5 separate regions of the Homo sapiens genome follow, and all the other regions are linked to region 1. Evidence: fine-mapped expression QTL. A gene starts in region 1. Each other region holds a variant in brackets. All regions are shown on one strand. Distances are from middle to middle. Region 1 holds the start of PIBF1 (progesterone immunomodulatory binding factor 1). Region 2 overlaps PIBF1 (progesterone immunomodulatory binding factor 1). Region 3 overlaps BORA (BORA aurora kinase A activator). Region 4 overlaps PIBF1 (progesterone immunomodulatory binding factor 1). Region 5 has its middle 37 kb from the start of KLF5.

The links. PIP is the estimated chance that this variant, and not a neighbour inherited with it, causes the effect.
Region 2: its variant is fine-mapped to the expression of PIBF1 in monocytes after interferon gamma (Fairfax 2014, PIP 0.95).
Region 3: its variant is fine-mapped to the expression of PIBF1 in fibroblasts (GTEx, PIP above 0.99).
Region 4: its variant is fine-mapped to the expression of PIBF1 in NK cells (Gilchrist 2021, PIP 0.90).
Region 5: its variant is fine-mapped to the expression of PIBF1 in lung (TOPMed, PIP above 0.99). The same link has a PIP of 0.9 or more in esophagus mucosa and stomach.

The regions. Positions count from the first base shown.
Region 1 is chr13:72,778,985-72,784,092 of GRCh38, reverse strand. It overlaps PIBF1 (progesterone immunomodulatory binding factor 1), which reads right to left and starts at 1,960. Exons shown (of 18, transcript NM_006346.4): 1 at 1,744-1,960; 2 at 372-670. The coding sequence starts at 623. It overlaps DIS3 (DIS3 exosome endoribonuclease and 3''-5'' exoribonuclease), which reads left to right and starts at 2,193. Exons shown (of 21, transcript NM_014953.5): 1 at 2,193-2,488; 2 at 3,090-3,247. The coding sequence starts at 2,261. RefSeq lists enhancers at 2,060-2,169, 2,087-3,001 and a silencer at 2,450-2,499.
Region 2 is chr13:72,962,860-72,967,967 of GRCh38, reverse strand. PIBF1 (progesterone immunomodulatory binding factor 1) reads right to left here. Exons shown (of 18, transcript NM_006346.4): 15 at 2,564-2,694. Among named protein-coding and RNA genes, the nearest start is that of KLF5, 94 kb to the left of the region's middle. The variant T/C (reference allele first, on the strand shown) is at 2,640.
Region 3 is chr13:72,738,087-72,743,194 of GRCh38, reverse strand. The region is part of intron 5 of BORA (BORA aurora kinase A activator); the gene reads right to left. Among named protein-coding and RNA genes, the nearest start is that of BORA, 13 kb to the right of the region's middle. The variant C/G (reference allele first, on the strand shown) is at 2,620.
Region 4 is chr13:72,928,920-72,934,027 of GRCh38, reverse strand. It overlaps PIBF1 (progesterone immunomodulatory binding factor 1), which reads right to left. Exons shown (of 18, transcript NM_006346.4): 14 at 2,761-2,863. Among named protein-coding and RNA genes, the nearest start is that of KLF5, 130 kb to the left of the region's middle. The variant TATAC/C (reference allele first, on the strand shown) is at 2,306.
Region 5 is chr13:73,019,566-73,024,673 of GRCh38, reverse strand. No RefSeq gene overlaps it. Among named protein-coding and RNA genes, the nearest start is that of KLF5, 37 kb to the left of the region's middle. The variant T/C (reference allele first, on the strand shown) is at 2,195.

The DNA.
Region 1 (5,108 bases):
TTAGTAATGAGAACACTTAACATCTGCTGTGTTTTTCAAAAACACAATGTTTTCCAAGATTACAATGTCATTAACTATAGCCACCATGCTGTCCAATAGATCTCTTGAATGTATTCCTCCTATTCAACTGTAATTATGTATCCTTTGACCAACATCTCCCCAACCCTCCTTCACCCCTAACCATGCCAGCCCTTGGTAACCACCATTCTATTCTCTACTTCTATGAACACCAAAATTATTTAAAGGCTGTACTTGTCAAGAAATATAAATGTATCATTTCAAGTTCAGATAATGTGTGTATTTAATTCTTATTTACCTGCCGTTTGAAGACAATAAAGCATATAGAACACAAAATTTAAACCTGATCTTACCTTTGTAAGATAATCCACTTTCAAATTGTCGATCATCATAGTTTTCTGGGATAGCTCAATTTTTAGTAACTGAATATTATGAAGTAGTTCTTTTCGTTCAATTAGCTGCCTGGTGATTCTGACTTTGCCCTCTCGCTCTTCTGATGAGGAAATATCATCCGTAGGAACTGTTGTTTCTAAACTAATATCTTCAGATTCCAGAGAACTAGAGATGTTCACTTTTTTTGACTCCTTTGAAATTTTTCGAGACATTTTTATTATTATGGATCAGTTTTCTTCTCTAATTTGATTTTAATATTCTGTAGGTTAAAAAACATTAATTCAAATGTACTATAAAATTAACTACAGAAATCATGGACTGTATTAAAGAGAGACTAAGGATTCCTTAAATAAATATTAGGCAATTTAGTGCATCCCAAATCTAGAACAGATTATTGCAGTTAAGTTAATGCTCAAATCAAACACATTAATTCCTAATATGAAGTCAGCCTTCGAGAAACTTAAAAAAACAGTTCCTGCGGGGAGGAATCTTACTTGGAGGAAACAAAGAAATGTACAAGATGAAGAAAAAAGCCCATTATAATCAAGAATGGCACCACTAAAACCAACACATGCTCAAAGATAACAGAAATCACGTCTGAGTTGGTCAGGGAAACGTTACACAGAGGTAGCACTTAGAATCTTTAAAGATTTGGACAGGCATGGTAAAAAGGAGAAATCATGCAGTTATTAATGATACGTAAGTGGAAGTAAAAAAACAAAGCCAAGTCTTGGAATAGTTACTCCTTTCACCGCCCCCCCAACACAAACACAAACACACACACACACACACACACACACACACACGCCCTTAACGATCAAGACTGGAAGGCCTTAAATGTCAAAATAGGGTTGGATTTTATTCTACAGGCAATGAGGCATCATTGAAGATGTTTTAAATAGGGAAAACGGGGACAAAAACATTTTTTATAGATAGCAGAATGAAAACAACAGGATATAAGAAAAATTCAAGAAATTCTAAATAGAACTTACTTCTAACTCTCTCATAAGAATGTTAGCAACTACCTTGTTTTAATACCTCATGATATAACAAATTATGCTATTAAATATTTCAGTTTTTCTAAACTGAATGATAAGGAAAGGTGTGTGGAGGGGAAACAGCGAGAACTATACTAAGATCGGCCTCCCTCCTTCTTTTTGAAGGGAAATAGGTAAGAAAAAGTGAATTCAAAGACAAATTCTCTCCTCGATTACAAAGGGCCCGAGACGGGGACTGCCTATACACTCGGCGTGAAAATTAAGCCCCAAACTTGGCAGCTCGGGGGATTCCTTGCCCCACGCGGGAAAGAAAGCGATGATAGTCGCAAGTTACCTCGAAAGTGTCAATTACTCCACACTGAAGCCTTGACCAGCAGCCAGTGCAGACACCGAGGGACCAAAGGCGTCTCCGGTCGGAAGCACAAGGTTGCAGGCCCTCAACAAGGGATTTCAAGGCAGGGGACCGTTAGGACCCGTAACCAAGACAACCATCTCCGCACCCGCAAGGAGGACAGAACCAGCACTCCCACAAGCCGCCGGAAGTCAACTCTCCCGGATGTTCCGAGGAGCGGAAAGCAACACACGTTGTGAGGTGGCGTCCAGAAGGAAGCCCCGCCTAGGCCACGGGCGGAAATGGCTCCTCGCCTTGCTTTGCCGCCCCTCCCCACTCTCGCCCAATCCCCGCGGCCGTCAGAGAGCCAACCAATGTTTATCTCGGCATTTTCCCGCGAGAAGTGTTACTAATATCCGGGAATGGAAAGGGAAGAACCTCCGGGGTTAGGCGTATTCTAGATTGACGCCTTTTGCTGGAAGAGCGCTGCTGGGGTTAGGATTCTGCGCGGCGAGGCAAGATGCTCAAGTCCAAGACGTTCTTAAAAAAGACCCGGGCGGGCGGCGTGATGAAGATCGTGCGCGAGCACTACCTGCGAGACGACATCGGCTGCGGTGCGCCCGGGTGCGCAGCGTGTGGAGGGGCGCACGAGGGGCCGGCCCTGGAGCCGCAGCCCCAGGACCCGGCGAGCAGCGTCTGCCCGCAACCGCACTACTTGCTGCCCGACACTAATGTGTTACTGCACCAGGTGCGTGGGCGGGCGAACCGCGGACAGCGCGGCCCCACGGGGACAAGGGGGTATGACAGGGAAACTGAGGCCCAGGGAGGCGGGTCTTTGGCAGTGTCACATACCTAGCGAAAGGGAAACCCCCTCGGGACCGAAGCTTCCTGTTCCCCAGGCCGAGGTTCTTTTCCTTGTGCTTTAAAAAATTTAGTTCTTGGAGTCGTAGTTCAGACACGTTATTTTTCTAACTCCTGGTGTCTCTTCTGCCTTAGATTGTAAGTGCCTGGAGGCCGGGGACCTGGGCTTCTGTGGCCTCCAGCCTGCGACTCCCAGGCAGCTTGTAAGTGCCTAGGAACAAAAAACTATGTGGGCCAACGTATTCCTTTATTAATACCCTTAATTCTACGAAGTCTTGTGATTGGTCTGTTTAAGTGTGCTTTTTTTAATAGATCTGAAGGGTTTAGTGACTATTGTCTCGTTTTCTATAGCCAAATAGCTTCTTGGCTTAACTTATTCAGTGTTTTTAAAACATAAAGTATTTATGCCCAACATAAAACAGGATTTTATGTTTGACAGAGCTATTTACAAATGAATATAGGAAAAATTAACTTTATCTTTCTTTAAGATTGATGTTCTTGAGGACCCTGCCATCAGGAATGTAATTGTGCTACAAACAGTTCTTCAAGAAGTGAGAAATCGCAGTGCCCCCGTATATAAACGCATCCGAGATGTGACTAATAACCAAGAGAAGCATTTCTATACTTTCACTAATGAGCACCATAGGTAGGAGGAATATTACGTTAAATATCAGAAAACCACAGGATTAGCAAAATTCGGGAGAGGGTTCCTGTGAGTAATTTATGACATTGTCAGAAGATAAGTGATAGATTTCATACCTTATTTAATTCTTACATGGCTGTGCAGAAGATAATGCTAAGTGGATCTCTCTAAGGTCACACAGGCATTGATGGGCTCAAGCCTAAAACCAAGGTCTGCTGACTCCTAGACTACAATAGGTACTTTAATTTCCAAAATGTTTTCATTTTGAATTGGTTTTAGCATGAGTTGGACCATAGAATCTTGGAAGATGAGATTTGCTTAAGTTCCTGGAATACCATATTATGTGAACAACTAACAGAGGGTAATAAAATATATGAGTTTGTGAAGTTTCTATTTTGTTTAAAAATAGAAAGTAGATTTATTCTTAATGGTCTTTTTAAAAGTTTAATACTTTGCAGCTGATTACATTGAGCAAGATTAGGTTAAGGAATAGAATTCTTTTTTTTTTTTTTTTTTTTTTTTTGAGATGGAGTCTCACTCTGTCACCCAGGCTGGAGTGCAGTGGTGTGATCTCTGCTCACTGCAACCTCCACCTCCCAAGTTCAAGCGATTCTTCTGCCTCAGCCTCCTGAGTAGCTGGGATTACAGTCACGCACCACTATGCCAGGCTAATTTTTGTATTTTTAGTAGAGACAGGGTTTCACCATGTTGGTCAGGCTGGTCTCGAATTCCTGACCTCGTGATCCACCTGCCTCAGCCTCTCAAAGTGGTGGGATTACAGGCATGAGCTACCGTGCCTGGCCAGGAATATAATTCTTTGTTGTGCTTTTAGATTCAAGACCTTTGAACTCAGTGTGTGGTCTCAAAAATATGATATTGCCTATTACGTTATATTACATAAATAATCTATGATGAGTATGGTACTTTTATTGGATTAGATCAGGGCTTCTCAATCTTGGCATTATAGATATTTTGAACTGAATAATTTTTTTGTGGTGGAAAGGCTGTTTTATACATTGTAGTATGTTTAACAGTGTTCCTAGCCTATTTGGCAGGATCACCACCCCTTACCCCCCCCACCACCACCACCACCACCACCACTCAGTTGTAATGATACAAAATGCCCTGAGGGGTGAATTCACTCAATTGAGAACCATTGGATTAGAGTGTAGACTTCTGGTAATGAAATTCCATCAGATTATGCACATTTTTAAAAACCTTAATATCTCAACTTTCTTGATTCTTATATCTCAAACTTCAATGTTCTTGTAAAGAATACCAGTAAAGCCCTTGTAGGCTTCTTATTGTTAGTACCTCCTTGAAATCCAGAAATAGCAACATCACTTGTTTTTCAGTGCAGAAAGACCCAAGTTTAAAACCAATTCAAAAATTTATGACTGTGTCTTTCACTGATGAGCTTAAAACATTAGCAGCTGGGCGTGGTGGCTTATGTCTGTAATCCTGGCACTTTGGGAGGTTGAGGTGGGCAGATCACTTGAGGCCAGGAGTTCCAGACCAGCTTAGCCAACCTGGAAAATCCCTGTCTCTTAAAAATACAAAAATTAGCTGGTTATGGTGGTACATGCCTCTAGTCCCAGCTACTTGCGAGGCTGAGTTGGGAGGATCACTTGAACCCGGAGGTAGAGGTTGCAGTAAGCTGAGATCATGCCACTGCACTCCAGCCTGAGCTACAGAGCAAGACTCTGTTTCAAAAAAAAAAAAAAAGCATTAGCAAGTGCATTCAACGATGAGGAATAAAATAATTCTAAAACTATTAATATAAATCAAATTATTAAATTGAATCTATTACCATTAAGTACTGGAAGCTATTGTAGTGAACTTTGCTGTTGTACTTAAACCTGGC
Region 2 (5,108 bases), 180 kb before region 1:
GTGATCCGCCCGCCTCGGCCTCCCAAAGTGCTGGGATTACAGACTTGAGCTACCGTGCCCAGCCAGATATGGAATATTTTTATCATTATAGAAAGTTCTATTGGACAACAGAGGTATTAGAGAGTTTAAATTACTTGCCCTAACTCAAAACTAAGTACTGAGTTGAATTTGAAAACTTCCTTTTAAAATCTGTTTTTTAAAAAATTTTATTATAGAATATTTCAGAAGAGAAAATATGTAATAGCAAACCCTGATATATCTATCACCCCGCTTCAACAACGATCAACTCATTAAAGTGCTACTTTTAATCACTATGATACACTACTTTTTTGTTCTCTTCCTTAATTATTTTAGCTAAAGAAATATTATCCCTTATTCAGAATAGAACATAGAGGGGCAGTATAACCTAATGGTTAGGAGAATAGAATTAGCAAGCAGACAGATATAAAATTGAATTCTTACTCTATCACAATGTTGCATGTTCTTAGAGGACAAGTTGCTTAATTTCTCTATGGCTGAATTTGTTCATCTTTATAATTTTCTCCTACAGCTAGCTATTATTTTCTCTATATTAAACATTTTAAGCTACCTTAATTCTTAGTAAAATAAATAATCAAATAAATTTGTTTGGAGATAACTGTGAAAGGAGTAATTTTTTTCCTCAGGATTTTTATATACCTCCTCATCACAAGAAATAATGGTAAAATAAGACATATAAAAGATTCAAATTTTAAGGCCGGGCATGGTGTCTCATGCCTTTAATCCTAGCACTTCGGGAGGCCGAGGAGGGCAGATCATGAGGTCAGGAGTTCAAGACCAGCCTGACCAACATGGTGAAACCCTGTCTCCACTAAAAATACAAAAATTAGCTGGGCGTGGCAGCGTGTGCCTGTAATCCTAGCTACTCAGGAGGCTGAGGCAGGAGAATCACTTGAACCCGGGAGGCAGAGGTTATAGTGAGCAGAGATCACATCATTGCACTCCAGCCTGGGTGACAGTGAGACTCCGTTTCAAAAAAAAAAAAAAGATTCAAAATTTAATTTTAATTTTAATTTTTTTGAGACAGAGTCTCACTCTGTTGCCCAAGCTGGAGTGCAGTGAAATGATCTCAGCTCACTGCAACCTCCGTCTCCCCGGTTCAAGCGATTCTCCTGTCTCAGCCTCCAGAGTGGCTGGGACTACAGGCATGCATCACCATGCTCAGCTAACTTTTGTATTTGTAGTCGAGACAGGGTTTCACTATGTTGGCCAGGCTGGTCTAGAATTCCTGACCTCAGGTGATCTGCCTGCCTCAGCCTCCCAAAGTGCTGGGATTACAGGTGTGAGCCACTGCGCCTGGCCAAAAAATATTCAAATTTAACAGAAATATGTAACATAGGAGGAAAAAATTCTATTTGGGGTTCTTTCTTCAATTTCCCTAAGATAATCAGGTGCCCAGTGAATTGTGAAAGACATAATTTCTATTGTCCCCAAGAACTATTTATAGAACAATTAATTTATTATTGTAGGTTGTATACAGAATTTTTAACTTTAAAATTAATCTAGAAACAAACTTATTTATTTTGACACATTTAAGGTATAAATGTGCTCCTAAATTATTTAAACAAATCATAAAAAATTAAGAACAGGAATAAAGTTCTAGACCAATTATTTTGGTGGGGTAGAAATGAAAGAAGGTAATTACTGTGATTCATTAAAAATAACATTTATACTTTGGAATTAGTTACCAATAGGTTTATATTTTTGTTTGCATACTTTAAGAAACCTGGATTTAACAACCATCTTCTCCTTATTGTTTTCCAATTCCTTGATTTAACCATTTCTATTCCCACTTAATTCTCTGCTTTTACATTGATAATCAGTTAATAATTTACCCATAAAAATCTAAATTATTCTTATAATCTTGGAAATCTAGTAACTAAGCAAACTAACCATCTATCCACAAGTAAAACTGTTTCATTTACACATATCTTCATTCTTTAATTTCAGTTTAAAAAACCAAACTGGTCATAGCAAATTTTTTTTGGATAAGATCTCATACAGAAACAATTACAAATTAAGGAAGTGAAAGAAATTTATTTATTTACACTTAAAAGTTACTTTCATGTAAAAGGTCAGAAGAAAAGCCTAAAAATTCCTTGGAAAAATCAACATAAATCTAAGTAAATGTAAATTTTTTGTTGTTGTTGTTTAAAAAGCCATTTTAACGACACAAATGGCATCTGGTTTTATTCCTCCTCTCCCTCTGGTCAATCTACACCACACTAAAGAGTTCTAGGGAAACAAGGACCAATAGCGGTTGTGTCCTCTAGGATAGATGGAATGTTATGCTCATAAGTGTAACATTGTTATTTCCATGCTAAGACATCTGATCACAGGTGGAATGTGAACACCTGATGTGATGTGACCTTAGTTTTTCTAAGAAAAGTTTAATATTCATTACATTTAAGACACCTTCATTATTTAAATTTTCTGTTCATGATTTACAACCCAAATTCACCTACAGCAGCAATATGGTAACAATGTCTTTATTATTCAAATAAAAGATTTGTAGATGGTTTACCTGACATCTTTCTCAAGTTGTGCAATAGATTCCGTCAGTGAATCAATCTTAGAATCTCTCTGACGCACTGATTCAA[T/C]GAGATACCTGTAAGGCTGTTGAGTCTGGTTTAATAGCGAATTGGCTCTGTCAAGCTAAAGAAACACAGGTTTCATTAAAATCTAGAAAATGTGACAACAAAATAAAATCATTCAAAATGCTCTAGCACAAATATAGTACAGAAATTCCTTTGACATGAATTATTCTGAAAAGCTTTTCCTGTGTAAATTTGAAGGTTTTAAGAGTGAATCAATATAGCTATTCTTAATAGCAACTATAAACAATAATTTTTTTTGTTTTCTTTTTTTTGAGACAGTCTCGCTCTGTCGCCCAGGCTAGAGTGCAGTGGCGCGATCTCGGCTCACTGCAACCTCCGCCTTCCAGGTTCAAGTGATTCTCCTGCCTCAGCTTTCCGAGTAGCTGGGATTACAGGTGCCTGCTACCATGCCCCACTAATTTTTGTAATTTTAGTAGAGATGGGGTTTCAGCATGTTGGCCAGGCTGGTCTTGAACTCCTGACCTCAGGTGATCGCCCACCTCAGCCTCCCAAAGTGCGGGGACTACGGGTGTGAGCCACCTCGCCTGGCTGAAAAAATTTTAAATAAAATATTAATAGCAATTTTGAGAATGCATAAACTTAAATTTTCTTAGTATTTGTCTTGGTCTGAAAAGCTATATGACATAAAATATATCTTTTTAAAATGGAAACACTTAGCTAAAAGTTAAACTCTTTTATTTCAGCTTTACTTCTACTAAAAATATTCACACCATAATTCAATAATTTTTTCATTTCTTCATATTCCCTTGTTTTAAAAATACATAATTTATATATCCAAATCATTATGTATAAATTTTTGACAAATGTGTTTTAAAATATAATGTAAAATTTACCATTTTAATCATGTGAAAAGTGTACAATTCAGTGGCATTAAGTACATTCATAATGTTGAATAGCTACCACTTCTATTTCCAGAACACTTCCATCAGCCCATATGGAAACTCTGTACCCATTAAACAAAAACTCCCCATTTTCTCCTCCCTCCTGGCCCTAGAAACCTGTATCTTACTTTCTGTCTCTGTGAATTTGCCTATTCCAGATACCTCACATAAGTGGAATAACACAATATTTGTCCTTTGCTGTCTGCTTATTTCACTTAGTGTGACGTTTTCAAAGTTCATCTATGTTGTATCATGTATCAGAACTTCATTCCTTTTAATGGTAAATAATAGTCCACTGTATGTTTATAGTACATTTTGTTTATCCATTGATCTCTTGATGAATACTTGGGTTTCCACTGTTTGGCTATTGTGAATAATGCTGCTATGAACATTGGTGGACAAATACTGTATATCTTGAGTTCTTGTTTCACTTCTGTTGGGTAGCTACCTAGAAGTGGAGTAGAACTGTTAGGTCATATGGTAATTCTATATTTAACTTTTTGAGGAACTGCAACGGTTCCACAGTGGTGATACCATTTTACATTCCTACCAGCAAGAAATTTGATTACAATTTCTCCACATCCTGGCCAAAGCACATTATTTCATGTGCATACTGGGCATTTGTATATCTTCTTTGGAGAGAAGTCTTCCCAAGTCTTTTGCTTGTATTTTAATTGTGATTTTTCTTGTTGTTGTTGCTGAGTTGTAGGAGTTCTCTATATATTCTTAATAATATAGTCTTATTAGATATGTAATTTGCAAATATTTTCTTCCATTTTGTGGGTTGTCTTTTCACTTTCTTGATAATCTTATTTATTTACTTACTTACTTATTTTGAGATGGAGTCTTGCTCTGTCACCCAGGCTGGAGTGCAGTGGTGCGATCTCAGCTCACTGCAACCTCCGCCTCCTGGATTCAAGAAATTCTCTTGCCTCAGCCTTCTGAGTAGCTGGGATTAGAGGCGTGCGCCACCATGCCTGGCTAATTTTCATATTTTTAGTAGATACGGGGTTTCACCATGTTGGCCAGGCTGGTCTCGGATTCCTGACTTCAAGTGATCTGCCTGCCTTGGCCTCCCAAAGTGCTGGGATTACAGGCATGAGCCATTGGGTCCGGCTGATAATCTCCTTTAACTCACAATTTTTTATAATTAGGAAATTCAATTTATCTATTTTATGTTTTTGTGCTTGTCCTTTTGCAGAAATTGCCAAATCCAAGGTTATGATTTTCTCCTATGTTTTCTTCTATGCATTTTATACCTTTAATGCTTAAATTTAGGTCTCTGATCCAGTCTGAGTTAGCTTTTGAATATGGTGTAAGGTAAGGGTCCAACTTCATTCTTTTGCATGTAGATACTCAGTTTTACCAGCCCCATTTGTTGAAAAGACTGGCTTTTCTCCATGAAATGGTCCTAGCACTCTTGTTGAAAACGACTGGCCATATAGGCAAGTGTTTACTTCTGGGCTCTATTCTATTAATATTCCGTGGGTTTTTATGTCCATCCTTATTCTAGTTGCACACTGTTTTGCTGACTGTAACTTTACAGTAAGTTCAGAAATCTGGAAATCTG
Region 3 (5,108 bases), 41 kb after region 1:
TTGCCTCAAATACTTTTCTTTGTGGTGGGAACATTTAAAATCCACTTTCAGCAATTTTGAACTATATGATACCTCATTATCAGCTATAGTTACCTGGCTGTGCAACAGATCACCAGAACTTATTCCTCCTGTCTAACTGAAACTTTGTACCCTTTGACCAACATCTCCCCCACCACCCCTCCTCCCTACCGTCTGGTAACCACCACTCTATTCTCTACTTCTAAGAGTCTGACTTTTTTAGATTCTACATATAAGTGAAATCATTCAGTATTTGTCTTTCTGTGGCTGGCTTTTTTCACTTAGCATAATGTCCTCTAGATTCATATATGTTGTCACAAATGACAAAATTTCCTCTTTTTTAAGGCTGAATAGTATTCCATTTTGTGTGTGTGTGTGTGTGTGTGTGTGTGTGTGTGTGTGTGTGTGTATATATATATATATCACATTTTAAAAAGTCCATTCATCTGTTGATGGACACTTAGGTTGACTCCATATCTTGGCTGTTGTGATTAACGATGCAGCAATAAATATGAGAGTGCAGGTATCTCTTTGAAATAGTAATTTTGGTTCCTTTGGATAAATACCCAGTAGTAGGACTGATGAATCCCAAAGTAATGTTTTTTTTTTAAGGAAATGATGATTACTCTTCATGACGTCAACCTTAAAAGGTTAGGGATACCTTTTAGCTACCCTCAATGTCCTCAACAGATTAAAATGCCAGATTATTTTGACAAAACCTGAAATTTGATCAATAAAACCATATAGTTTCTTTCACAAGAAGAGTTAAAAATATGGGTGCAAATTATTTTAACTCTAAAGTTTTATAAATTGAAAAATCACCAGATTAAAAAAACTCAAAAACCAAAACCATCTCAAAAAGACTAATATAAGTAAGATAAAAGGAAGAAAAAGCAAGGGGACCAAACAAACCCCCCCTCCCCCCAAAACCAGAAACAACTCAGGAATTCTAAAATAAAATGACAAAATAGAGTGTAGTAACCTAACAATTCTAAATTTTAAAATGGGTAAGTGGGTTGCTGAATAAATTAAATTTCCCTGTGAAATACTATCAAAACGGGTAAATAAAGAAAATTTTGGATGCAGATGACTTTGTCACTGCATGCAGAGTGACCTTCTATAAGGCAGATGTAATCAATACTCTCTCTGCCTAAAACCCTGCAATAGTCTTTAGGATAAAATCCAAACACCTCAATGGCTTACAAAGCCTTTCAAAACCATGTCTATTTCTCTAGCATGGTTGCCATCTAATTAAATATTATTTGAGTACCTAAAACAAACAAACAAGAAACAGGTATCTCTCTCATCTCTAGGTATTATCTTATGCTCTCTCCTCCCTGCCTTTTCTCCCCTGCATTCCAAGAGTCTAACTCAAATCTCAGCTTAAATTTTATCTTCTGCCAGCATGCCTTCCTTGCCTTCCTCAGACCAGAAAGACACCTACAGCAACATTATCACATCACTTTTCAACTCTATTCCAAGTGTTTTGGTTGCTTCCCCTAGAAGGGCTTAGACAAGTTTAAGACCACAATCAAATGAGGAAAAAAAAAAATCGATGGATTTGACTGCACCAAAATAAAAATTTCTATGCAACCCAGGATATCAAGAACAAAGAGTAACATACATATGACAGAATGGGAGATAACATTTGAAATGTTTAAGACCAATATAACCACAATATGTAAGGTATCTTAGAAATTAACAGGAAAAAAAAGGTTAGCAACTCCAATTGAAACATATCAATGAATTACAAATAGACATTTTCTATGAAATGTAAAAGGTCATTAGTCTATGAAGACAAAAAGAAAACTGAAACAATCATTTAGAATGTCAAATAACCTATAGGAAAGGCAAAGATGTAAAAGCTGGATAATGCCAAGGGCAGGCAGGGATGCTGGGACACAGGAACCCTAGGGACTGCTGGGGCTGTGCAGACTGTGCAGATATTCTAGAGAGCACTCTAATACTGTGTAGTCAGATTAGGTAACGATATATTCTATAACTCAGAAATCCTCTACCTGCGTATATATCCCAGGGAAATTCTCACTCAAGTCCATAAATAAAAACACATGAGGATATGCACTGAAGCACCTTGCTGCATAAATATTAATAATAGTAAATGCTACCAGCACAAGCTAACATGTATAAACAAAACCACTTTTCCCCTCATTCACCATTTTATTTGTTAATCTTTAGGTAGATAACCAAACACCATGTGCTAGGTACATTATCTTAGAGGTACCACAATAACCATCATTTTATAGATAAGGAAACTGAGGCACAGAAAAGCTAAGTAACTCATCTAAAGTCACACAGCTAGTGAGCTTTACTGGGTACAATTCAAACCTAGATAATATTACACTAGAGTAAGGGTCAGCAAACTATTGTTCATGGTGCAAATCTGGCCTTTCACCTATTTTTTTAAATACAGTTTTACTGGTACACACTCACATTCATTTACATATTGTCAGCGGCTACTTTTGTGGTACAGCAGTAGAGTGGAGTGGTTCCAACAGAGGTTGTGTGGTCAGTAAAGGCTTAAGTATTTATTATTGAATCCTTTACACTTAAGGGCTGCCAACCTTGGCCCTAAAGTAGCAT[C/G]CAATAGAACATTTTCTGTGATGATGGGAATGTTCTCTATCTATACTACTCGATATCCACATGGCTATTGAGCACCTGAAATGTGAATATTGTGAATGGGGAACTCCATTTTTAAATTTAACTTTAAATTTAAATAGTCACACGTGGCCACAACTGTCAAGAACTATAAAGGGTCTAAGATTCTACCCAACTTGGCAACTAACAGGTGAACATGTCAAAGTTCCATTGGTGCTGGCTAAAGACATGAGGCTTCTGGGGGCAGAGATAAAGGACTTTATTATTTTCAGCACAGCAGGCAGCATGAACTTAACATTCCTATTAATTCCCTTTGCTCCCAAGTGCCAAGAAGATGACATGAAACAGTCCAGTGCAGTGAATTCTTATAATTCTGCATACAAGCTGGACTTTCTCATACAAAAAGCAGGGCTCATTCACCCGACACAGTTTCCAGTTCTATACCTCAATGTGGTTGATCCAGATATCTGCCTTATATAAATTCCTCCTGGTAACCACCTCCCTATGGGCCATCTACATATGGCCTACCTGACTGACCCCCCAACCCTCATACCGCACATGGACTACACAGACATGCCACAGTGACTATCTCTCAGTCACTGTGTGACCTCCTCAATGCATGCCTGCTTGCTTTAAACCCACCAACTAAAACTCTGTTTGGATAATGCCCTGGACCCAATAAAGGCGTTGGCCCATGGGTCCCTTTCTCTCTCTTCCTGACCTCCCTGTGTGGTGTTCAGGTATGCTGTGTACCCCTAGGACTTGTAAGTAATAAAATTTTTATTTCCATCTTGTGTCTCTCCTAATCATGGGAGGAGTGCTCTCTATCTTAAAAGATTCTAAATTAAAATACCCAGGTGGCTGGTGGACACACAATGGGTTTTCACCATAGCTAAGGAACCCCAAGCTTAGGAAATCCCATTCTTTTAAGAGAGACTGCAAACAAATCTGCTCCAGAGGGAGACATCATCTTTACTATACTGGACAGCAAAACAAACTTACCCTCTGCTCTGGTGGGACACACTATCTCTACCTTCCAAGACAAACACCCTAGAAAAGATAGTTTGGAACAGAACTTGTCCATGCCACTTCATGAAAGGTGTGCAGAAATGTGAGGCCTATGGAGAATTGTCTCCCAACAACACAGTAAACAGCACAGCTCTGGAGCCTATCCTATTAACCACTGCACTGTTATCGTGGGCTTGATTAGATTTCAAAGAGTCTAAAGTGTTTTTAAGCATCTTCTTGATCCTGCATCACTTGAACTAAAACAGGATACTTGGAATACAAAAATGTTATTTAAAAAATCACTTAAGAAGGTTGATTCATCTGTTGAAAAAATCCAACAGTAAAGAATCTGGGGGTGAAAAACTAGTATCTATGAGAATGCCACCTTGGACACACAATTTTAGAGCTGGGGGGATGTAAATGGACAACTCTAGTTCAATCCTTTTATTTCACAAATAAAAGACTGAGGTACAAAGAGAATAATTTGATCAAGGTCACCTCTCTGGTTTATAAAAGTAGGAGGTTTTACAATCCAGATTTCCATCTACTATTGCGTGCTACCACTAATTCATAATGGCTAAGAATACAGCATCTGATTTGAGAATTTTGAATTCAGGTTTTCCCACTTTTATCATCTCTGTAACCCTGGACAAATGCTCTCATCTTTCTAAAACTAGGTTTTCTTACCTATAAAATGGGGCCAATAATTACACCTACTTCATATGAGTTATAAGAAATTACTGAAAGCACTTAGCACTGTCCTGGCATAGAGAAAGTACTAACCCAGCTTACCTATTATTGTTGTATTATTATGTTGTGTTTTTTGATAAAGAATGGAACAAACATTCCCTCTTATACTGAGAGCATAATTAAGGTATACTACAATAGACAGTGTAATTCCACTGTGATGAGGGATGCATATATACAAGTGATTCCTGAATACTGCCTCACAACCCAAAGAGCAGTGAGAACAAATATATGACAACCATTGCCTGGAGGTAGAAAGATAATTGTTAGCTTACTGGCTTGCCCTTTAATTTCCTTATTAATTTTGCAGATACTCAGCAATAATACACTGTCCCAGAGGTCATATTAAGTCTTCATCCTTTCTTTACCTTTATAAGAAATCAGCAAATTAGCAAAAGGCAACACAATTTACGGTTTTATCTAAAATATTAACCTTCAAAATACTGCTAAAGTCATTAACAACTCATCTCTATATTCAATACCAACTATTTCTTCATCTATGGATCCTCTATAACCATCATTATAACTGACATTCACAATAGTCATGAAGAAAAAGTTAAATTCAGAGTATAACAGCTAAAAAACAATTCAATAAATTTTAGTCAAATTTTTAATTCTAACCCTAAAAGGAGTTAAATTCTATGTTATCCAGAATTTTAAAGCAAGCTTCTTACAAAGCAGATATACTGGCACTTCATGATATGTTGCTTTATATTCAC
Region 4 (5,108 bases), 150 kb before region 1:
AAATGTCTTATGAAATTTTTTCAAACATACACAAAAGTCCAGAACTCACTACTAAACCTATATGTAAACGTCATCCAACTTCAAACATTATTAACATTTTGTGATTCTTGTTTTATTTGTTAAGCCCTTCCTCCTTTTCTCATGAAATATTTTAAAGCAAATTCCAGGCACCATACCATTTCACATCATAAATATTTCAGCATTTAAGTCTTTTTCTCAATATAAGCCATAGCTTATTTAAAAATGGTTTCATACAAAGTTAATTATACTTAATTATAGGAGCATTTAACACTTAATTTCTTACATTTTCTCCCAACAATTTATAGACGTGTGTTCACATTTAGAAATTCTTTCTTTTTATTTTTGAGACTAGAGTTTCCCTCTGTTGCCCAGGCTGGAGTACGATGGCACGATCTCAGCTCACTGCAACCTCCGCCTCCCAGGCTCAAGTGATTCTCGTGCCTCAGCTTCCCAGGTAGCTGGGATTACAGGCATGTGCCATCATGCCCAGCTAATTTTTGTATTTTTAGTAGAGACAGGGTTCCACCATGTTGGCCAGGCTGGTCTTGAACTCTTGACCTCAAGTGATCCCCCTGCCTTGGCTTCCCAAAGTGCTGGGATTACAGGCATGAGCCAGTGCACCCGGCTTCTTTATTTTTAGAGATGGTGGATCTTGCTTTGTAGCCAAGGCTCAAACTCCTCAGCTCATGTGACTCTCCTGCCTTGGCCTCCGAAAGTGCTGGGATAATAGGCATGAGCCACTGCATCCAGCCCACATTTAGAAATTCTTATTTCAATTAACTGAAATGCTCAGGAAGGCATGTATTTTAATATTTTACTTTTAAAAAATATTTTTGAAAATTACTGTGAAATTAAAGGCAACATGAGGGATCTACAATATATTAGCAAACAGAGGTTTGTTTGTTTGTTTATTATCTTTTCTGCTTCCACCTAGCAGTGTGCTGGACTTGGCTTGCAGCAGCTTGTAGGAGTTCTCTATTATTTCATACAAAGACTTGTACATGAATGTTCATATGAGCTTTATTCCAAAAACTGGAAATGACTCCAATGTCCATCAACAAGTAAATGGATAAACAAACTGGTACATCCACACAAAGAAATTACTCAGCAATGAAAAGAATGAAGTACAAATGAATCCTGAAAATTTTTAGGAATTTTGTGGGCTGGCTATCAAACACAACTAGCATTAAAAACTAAACTAAATTATTTAAATTTATAGTAAAATACATTTTATTAAAAACAAAGGTAAAAACAATCAAATTTGTCAATTTAAAATTATTTTACTATTATCTGTGCTCTTGAGTTTACCTATGTCTGTTGTATCTGTATGGTGCAAACATTAAGTACTGGTATGCTGCTGACAATCTTTACTCCATCTTCAGTAACCTTAGGTTGGTAGTTTGAAGTCAGCCATGGTGGGAGTATTTATAAAAGAGATACAAGCCAATGTTACAAATCAAGCTCTCCCTCATATCCCTCTTGGAAAGCTGGCTGTTAACATTTACCAACACACCACTGTGTCAACCCCAAGCATTAACTATGTGTCAGGAACTGCAATAAAATGAAGTATTTCTGGTCTTTCGAAATTTGAGGATAAAGATCCTCCTAATGTTATAGTATGAAAAGACACTCTAAAGAATATAAACAGATCCTTAAGAAAACAAATAATAAACAACATATATTAATGTTATTTAATGTATGACTTGAAAAAACCCTTTGTTATAAGAGAAATAGTTTTTAAAACTTTTAAAATATTAACTTCTTGGCTGGGTGCAGTGGCACATCTCCAATCCCAGTACTTTCAGAGGCCCTAGGCAGGTGGATCGCTTGAGCCCAGAAGTTCTAGACTAGCCTGGGCAACATGGTGAAACCCTGTCTCTACCAAAAAAATACAAAAATTAGCCAGGCACAGTAGTGCGTAGCTACAGTTCCAGCTACTTGGGAGGCTGAGGAGGGAGGAGTCCTTGACCCTGGGAGGCAGAGGTTGCAATGAACTGTGATCATGCCACTGCACTCCAGTCTGGGCGATAAAGCCAGACCCTGTCTCAGAAAAAAAAAAAAAAAAAAAGAAAGAAACAAAGAAAAAAACGGAAAAACTTCTTATGTTGACACTCAGGAATATTAAATAAATAAATAAAAGGAACATTAGCAAAGTAGTACCTCCGGTTTAAATTGTTTTATGACTCGCATTTCAAAAGTACAGAAAAATAAAATTAGATCTTGACATCAGAAGATGATTAAAAATGCTATGTAAAATGCATACATATATATATATATATATATA[TATAC/C]GTAGTTTAAATGACATAAGGCTAAGAAAAAGAAGCAATATGAGCCTGATTTTCTAAGTGTAAACAAAGTTAAATTTAACAGAGGAGTGATTTCTCATTAAACACAGAGGTAAAAACCAAATCTATCTTAAAAATGATTAGTAAAAAACTTAAAATGTCACCAAAGTTTGCCAAACCTGTTTTACCAGTTGATATTCTCAGAAATCAAAGCTCTGTCTGTCTAGTCTGCATTTATACTTAGTCTGGGCATTTAATCTCCCTTTTGTTCTCAGTTTTGCCATACACTGTAAGTTGTTTTTTATGGCCTTAACATTCAGTTAGTTTCATAAATTGTGAAATCATTTTGTACTAGCAAACAGCTTATTTTAAAACTGCTTAGAAAAATAAAAGAGTTACAAACAATTAAAATGAATACTGTGATTCTTCATATGGGTTTCTTTAAGTTATTTACCTCTTGTGAAAGCTGTGTTACTTGGTCCTTTCGATGTTCCAGATCTTTTAAAATCAGCGAGTTTTGTTTTTCTAATTGAAGCACTCTTCTTGCCAAGTGAACACTAGGCAAATGAAATAAGAAAATTAATGCTTAAAAGTGAAATACTGCCCAAAATATTCAAAATGTGTTTGTGTACTTGAAAATAGACATCATTTCCTAATTATACTTAAATATTAACAGAAAAAATATAGAGTCAAATAATATTTTCAGGCACCAGTAGTGGAAGACCAATACCCCACAACTCAGAATTATGAGAGTAACAACATTAAAACATAACCGTGATAGACTGATTACTGCAGTAACGGTTTTTAGCCCTTGCTATAAAAGTGGAGAGGTAACATTATAACACTTGCTTGAAAAGACCACAATACAGCAATTTACAGCTTGTCTCCACTTTTATAAATATTTTCCAATTACAAATCAGAAAATTAGTTGAAATATTACAAACAATAATTAGCTTATCACTTTGAGAAGTATCAGAGTTTACTTTAAACAACATAATGCATGTTATAATATAAAACAAAAATGAGGTTTTTAATTGAAAGTGGAGATGAAAAAGATATATAAAACTTAGAGAATGTCTATAGTAAAGGCTAAGCTTCTGTACTAAAAGAAAAAAATCACTCCCTCTGATGCTCTGCATTACCATAACTTATTGCACTGACCTTTAGTATTTAAAATTACATATGAAACATCTCAATTCTACTTTTAAGAAACAATTTTAAGAATAAAATCTATTCCTTCTAACTATGGTGGGAGGAAGTGGTATATTTCTTTAAAGAACTGCTAATAATTTTGAGAAGACATATTGCTCCAAAGAACCTCTCTGCATTTCCAGTAACTTAACATTTTCATATTTATCATATTTTCATATTTTATACTAGTTAACCTATTAATCTGTGAATTGCAGAATCCATGGAATCCTAGATGGAATGTTTTATAATGACAAAAAGTAAGATAACTGTGCTTTAAATAAAATCATAGGGCAGAAAAAATTCTATTGTATTTTAATATTTCCCAATATCAGATAAAGAAATGCAGACAACATTCTAAAAAATAATGTTAAGGCCAGGCGCGGTGGCTCATGCCTGCAACCCCAGCACTCTGGGAGGCTGAGGCAGGAGGATCACTTGAGGCCAGGAATTCAAGACCAGTATGGGCAACAGGGTGAGACCCTGCCTCTGCAAAAAATACAAAAATTAGCTGGGCATGATGGTGCATGCCTGTGGTTCCAGCTACTTGGGAGGCTGAGATGGGGGGATCACGTGAGCCCAGGAGTTCGAGGTTACAGTGAGCTAGGATTGTGCCACTGCAATCCAGCCTGGGGTGACACAGAGACCCTGTCTCTAAAAATAATAATAATAATAAATAGTGTTAAATATCATTCTATATATCTATTTCTAAGAACTCATACCAAATAAAAAAGATGAGTTCTGGCAAAAGTTTATAAAGTGATTTGAGTTGCTTGTTTAGATCTAAAATTCTTTCAACTGGCATTAGAGATGGAAAAAGCATACAGTCCTCATTTTTTGACAACCACTTTTTTTTTAAACTTTACTGACATACAATTTTACTGATATGCAACTTAAATATCATAAAGTCCACCAATTTAAAGTGTACAATTCAATGATTTTTAGTATATTTAGAGTTGTGCCACTATCACTATAATCTAATTTTAGAGCATTTTCATTATCTCAAGAAGAATTTCTGTGTCCATTACCAGTCACTCTCCATCCTCCCCACATTCCAACTTCCTCCTTTGCTCCTCAAATTCAACCTTAGGGAACCATTAATCTTTCTCTCTTTATAAATTTTTAAGGAGTTTACAGTTTATGACTATATTGTTCTTCATTTCCCAATAAAAATATACTAAGTTCTCTCTAATTTGACCCTAAAATAACAAGATTTCTACAAATAAAATAAGCCTTAATGTGAATTTTGCATTTAAAATCCGTTGATTCCATTATACGTTTGCAAGCATCAGTTTATCATTAGCTCTATTTTTATTAGGTTAATTAAAAAATCTTGGAGCTATCTTTATTCACATTTTTATTCTTGCTTTCTTACTCTTCATACATGTTAGGTGTTAACTTTTTTTTATCTTTTTGTGTCCCACAGAACTTCACACTAGGGTCACTTAAACATGGTAATTTTTCAATAAATATGTTGAAGGTGTAGAACAAGTATGTGTATACTCAGTATAGAACAATAAACACAATCAAATGCAATTACACAGAACTAGAGTTACAAATGAATGAAATGGAAGACAAAGACATGCAAGAAAATGAGATGCAGAGGTCACATAT
Region 5 (5,108 bases), 240 kb before region 1:
TGAGGAGGACTTAGGGGAGGTTAGTATTCTAGGTAGGCAGTATTCTAAGTAGAGAAGGCAGAATGTGGTGAAGAGCCTGAGAAAAGAAACAGCTGGAAGAGTTTAAGGAATTCAAAAAAGGCCACTGAATACCATGGAGGAGCTCAAAAGAAGTTTGGGTTTGGATCAGGCAGGGCCTGTACCCTGTGGCCTGGGCAGTGTTTGCTGGAATGGTGTAGCCCAGTGAGCTGAGTGTAAGCACCTCTTCCTAGCCCCATTTTGGTAGCTCTACGCTGGCCATAGTGGGAGTATTCATTCATTCCATCCTGCCATGAAAATCTAGGCCCCACTATGAAAATCAGGGTCTTTTTTCCTGGGAGCTGATGGTTAAACATTCATGAACACACCTTTGGGGTTATTCTACTACTTTTTAGATTTGTTGCATTTCCCTCCAGGGTTCAGGAGACAGAAACTATCCCCACAAACTAAACACCAGCCCCAAAGTTAATATTATGTCCCTTTTTCTTTTCTTTTCTTTTCTTTTTTTCTCCCTATATCACCTAGGCTAGAGTGCAGTGGCACCATCTTGGCTTACTGCAGCCTCCGCCTTCTGGGTTCAAGTGATTCTCCTGCCTCAGCCTCCCAAGTAGCTGGAACTATTTATATTTTCAGTAGAGATGGGGTTTTGCCATGTTGGCCAGGCTGGTCTCAAACTCCTGATCTCAAGCAATCTTCCCACTCGGACTCCCAAAGTGCTGGGATTACAGGCATGAGCCACTGCTCCCAGCCATTTTTTTTTTTTTTCATTTTTGTCAGCTAACATTCCTTCTCATTTATTGGAATTAAGTTTTGATTTTTTTGAAGGAAAAAATTGTAATGAAATTTTTTTCCTCTGTTTTTGATCTCTTTATTTTACATGACTGGACATTTTAGAAAATTAAGATAAAATTGTGCTTTTACTATGCATTTGAAACTACTTAGTAGTTTTTATGAAGCTATCAACAAGGAACGTAACTGCTGTATTATAAGCTGTGGAACTGAATAATTTAAATGTTTAGAGCTTAAGACTTTTTTTCTTTTCTTATCAAGGGATATGTATGCATTTCCATTATTAGAAGAAAAGTGCATGGATATTTTGTATTGCTTCTGGGTTAAGAAGACAGTCATTTTTATTCTGTTCTATTCATTGCATTTCATTCTATTTGTGACAAAAAAAAATCTGGGAAACTTTTTCTCAACTATAGATGCCCTCCTTAAATATAAAGGAAGTGCCGGACATGGTGACTTATGCCTATAATCCCAGCACTTCGGGAGGCTGAGGCGGGTGGGGTGGATCACCTGAGGTCAGGAGTTCGAGAGCAGCCTGGCCAACATGGTGAAACCCTGTCTCTACTAAAAATTAGCTGGGCGTGCTGGTGGGCGCCTGTAATCCCAGCTACTCAGGAGGCTGAGGCAGGAGAATCACTTGAACCTGGGAGGTGGAGGTTGCAGTGAGTGGAGATTGTGCCACTGAACTCCTGCCTGGGTGACAGAGTGAGACTCCATCTCAAAAAATAAATAAATAAATAAATAAAAATAAAGGAAGCATAGCATATTTAAAATGCAAGAGCTAAAAGGATTGGCTAAATTTAAGATACCTTTAGGAGCTACGGGCTGAGGACAATAAAATATATGTTTTTATGCATCTATTTAGGAAATATTTGTTTATCTTGATGATGTTATGCCAATACGGTAGCTTTTAAGTTATTTCTGAACTTAATAGTCTGTGAAGGCAGTAAGTGAAATATCTTTCTGCAACTATTGCAAACACTCATTATGATCAAAATAGTTAATACTTTAAAAATTTGTTGGTGATGTACAATGTTATGATAAACATTGTGGTGATTGCATTAAGGAATACAGTTTTTCTCTACCTCCCATGCAAGAAACAAATATTTCACATGGGTTTAGTAAAACGCAAGGCTCATCTATTTGATCATTTAAAAATTTTGAATTATATTTATTGAAACATGACATACTGTGCTCTTATACCTCAATTACATTTTGTTCTGTTTTCCAAGTTCATGTCTTATAAATCTCTTGTATAAACTGTAGGTTAAATTCAAAATAAAAAATCACAGTGTAAAAAAAATCCATTCTTTGCTGCGGAGAATGGCATGAGTAAATTTAGGAAGGCCAGTTAGGAGACTACCGAAGAATCCTAGGGAGGAGGACA[T/C]GATGGCTTGAGCTAAGGTTGTGTTAACAATTCACACACAGGAAATGAAACACACATGTAAAATCAGAGAATTGAAATCTTTAAATTTCAAATTAGAATTGGATATATCAGTGGGAACTCATGAGTTTTTCCCTCTCTTTAAAAACGTATTATTTTACAGCTTTATTAAAAATGCCTCAAAATAAGGAAGGCCTAAAAGCAATTGTCCTTCCCAGTGCCCAGAATGTTCCGTGTTCTGGATTTAGTCAATTGCTTCCTCCTGGCGTCTTTTAGCTTGATTTTCTCTTTCTTGTTTTGCCTGTAGATTGGAAGTTGGATCTGAAGACTCAATTTGATTCAGCTAAAATCTTAAAATTTTTGACAAAAATACTATACATGTATTGCTTTATACTTCACATCACATCACATCACATCAGGAAGCACATAATGTCTGGTTGTCTCATTTTAATGATACTAAGGTTGACTAGTGATTATAGGTGGTTATGGCCTGATATAATATTCCCTATTATCCTTTATCTAATTGTTTTAGCATTCATTGATGTTTGTTAAGTCATTGGCTTCATCAGGGCTTTCTAGATGGTGCCTGCCTGACTGCCTGCCCACCCGCCTACCGTCCTCCTTCTCTCCCTCTTTCCTCCTTTCAAAAAACATCTTTACTGAGGTGCAACTGACATATAATAAACTTCACATTTTGGCCAGGTGAGGTGGCTCACACCTGTAATCCTAGCACTTTGGGAGGCTGAAGTGGATAGATCACTTAAGGCCATGAGTTCGAGACCAGCCTGGCCAACATGGTGAAACCCCGTCTCTACCAAAATACAAAAATTAGCCAGGCGTGGTGGCGGGTGCCTGTAATCCCAGCTACTCAGGAGGCTGAGGCAGGAGAATTGCTTGAACCCAGGAGGCAGAGCTTGCAGTGAGCCGAGATCACGCCATTGCACTCCAGCCTGGGTGACAGAGTGAGACTCCACCTCAAAAAAACAAAACAAAACTGTACATTTTAAAATGTACAATTTGATAAATATTGACAAAGGTATATATCTGTTAAACCATTGCCACAATCAAGACAATGAATATATCCTGTCTTGACATTTCCTTTGCCGTTTTGTGTATTTGAAAATTTTTTTTCTTTTCTGTTTTTTTTTTTTTTTTTTTTGAGACAGAGTCTCACTCTGTCGCCCAGGCTGGAGTGCAGTGGCACGACCTGGGCTCACAGCAGCCTCCGCCTCCCGGTTTCAAGCAATTCTCCTGCCTCAACCTCCCGAGTAGCTGGGATTACAGGCATGCGCCACCACACCCAGCTAATTTTTGTATTTTCAGTAGAGACGGGGTTTTGCCATGTTGGCCAGGCTGGTCTCGAATTCCTGACCTCAGGTGATCCTCCTGCCTAGGCCTCCCAAAGTGCTGGGATTACAGGCGTGAGCCACCATGCCCGGCCGGAAATTTTCACAATCAAAAGTAAAAAAAAATATGAGGCAGATCAACAGGGCTTGGTAATTGAATGCTGGTAGTTAACAAGAGAAGGGTCTTGGATGACTCCTGGTTTTGTGGTATAAGTCACTGAGTAAATAAATGGTAGTACCATTTATTGAAATTGAAAACACTGGAGGAGAAAGTTGGTGAGTTCAGTTTAATACATGTTAAGTTTGAGGTCACAATGGGACATCCAAGTAGAAATGTCAAGTAGGCAGGTGGTTAAAAGGAACCGTCTGAACTGGAGACGTACGTTTGCAAATATTGGCATTTAGTAGCTGAAGCCAGGGTGTAGAAATTATCTGAGAGTAAGTACAGAATGGAATGAATAGGCTTAGAGGGAAAAAAGCTCTGAAAAATTCAGTGTTTTATGATCAGGTAATAGAGGAGGATGAAGGAGAAAAATATGAGTGTATAGTATGGCAGAAGCTAGGAGGAAATAGGGAGAGAAGATGCCAGGTGTGCTGATTCCAATAAGTCATATTCTGTATATCAGTTTTACTTTTCTCTCAGAAGTAATACATAAACATTATGATCTATGCACCAGTAAATATGGGCACACTCCTGAAAGACGTGTCATCTTTAGTGCACTAACAAAATTAAATTTCTGAGCCTGTAAAGCTGAGGACTGGACTGTGAGCTCTGTAAATCAACCAAAGTAAATGATACCACGGGATACTCTTGGTACTAGTTGGCTAGCTTTGTTGGTGACCTCTAAGCCTTAGGAAGTCTTTCTTTAGAGCATTTATAGTATTTATTAATTTTTAAAATGAGTTATATGAAAATAAAATATATTTCTCACTGATATTGGATAGGCTAATATCCACTGCTAGCCTATCCAGTATCAGCGGGAAAGTTGCAATAACCCCAATTTTTTTTTTTTTTTTGAGACAGAGTCTCACTCTGTTGCCCAGGCTGGAGTGCAGTGGTACGATCTCGGTTCACTGCAAGATCCGCCTCCTGGGTTCACTCCATTCTCTTGCCTCAGCCTCCCAAGTAGCTGGGACTTCAGGCACCCGCCACCATGCCTGGCTAATTTTTTGTATTTTTAGTAGAGACGGGGTTTCACTGTGTTAGCCAGGATGGTCTGGCTCTCCTGACCTCGTGATCCACCCGCCTCAGCCTCCCAAAGTGCTGGGATTACAGGCGTGAGCCACCACGCCCAGCCAATAACCCAAATTTTAATCCTGTAAGATTAGGCAAGGGAAAATAAATTCCTGACATCAGTTTCACTTGAGAACATTTCAGATATGAGCAGCAGCTTTTTATTTATTTGTTGTACATGAGAGAGTATTTATTGAAAACATGGTTACTGACAGGAAGCTCCTGGCTGCTCTCTAGTTACAATCTTGGCTCACAACTGGAAGTGCTACGTACTTTTTACCTTCACCCTATTTTATTTTCACCCGAGTTTCCATCCTAGATAGGTAGATCTTATATA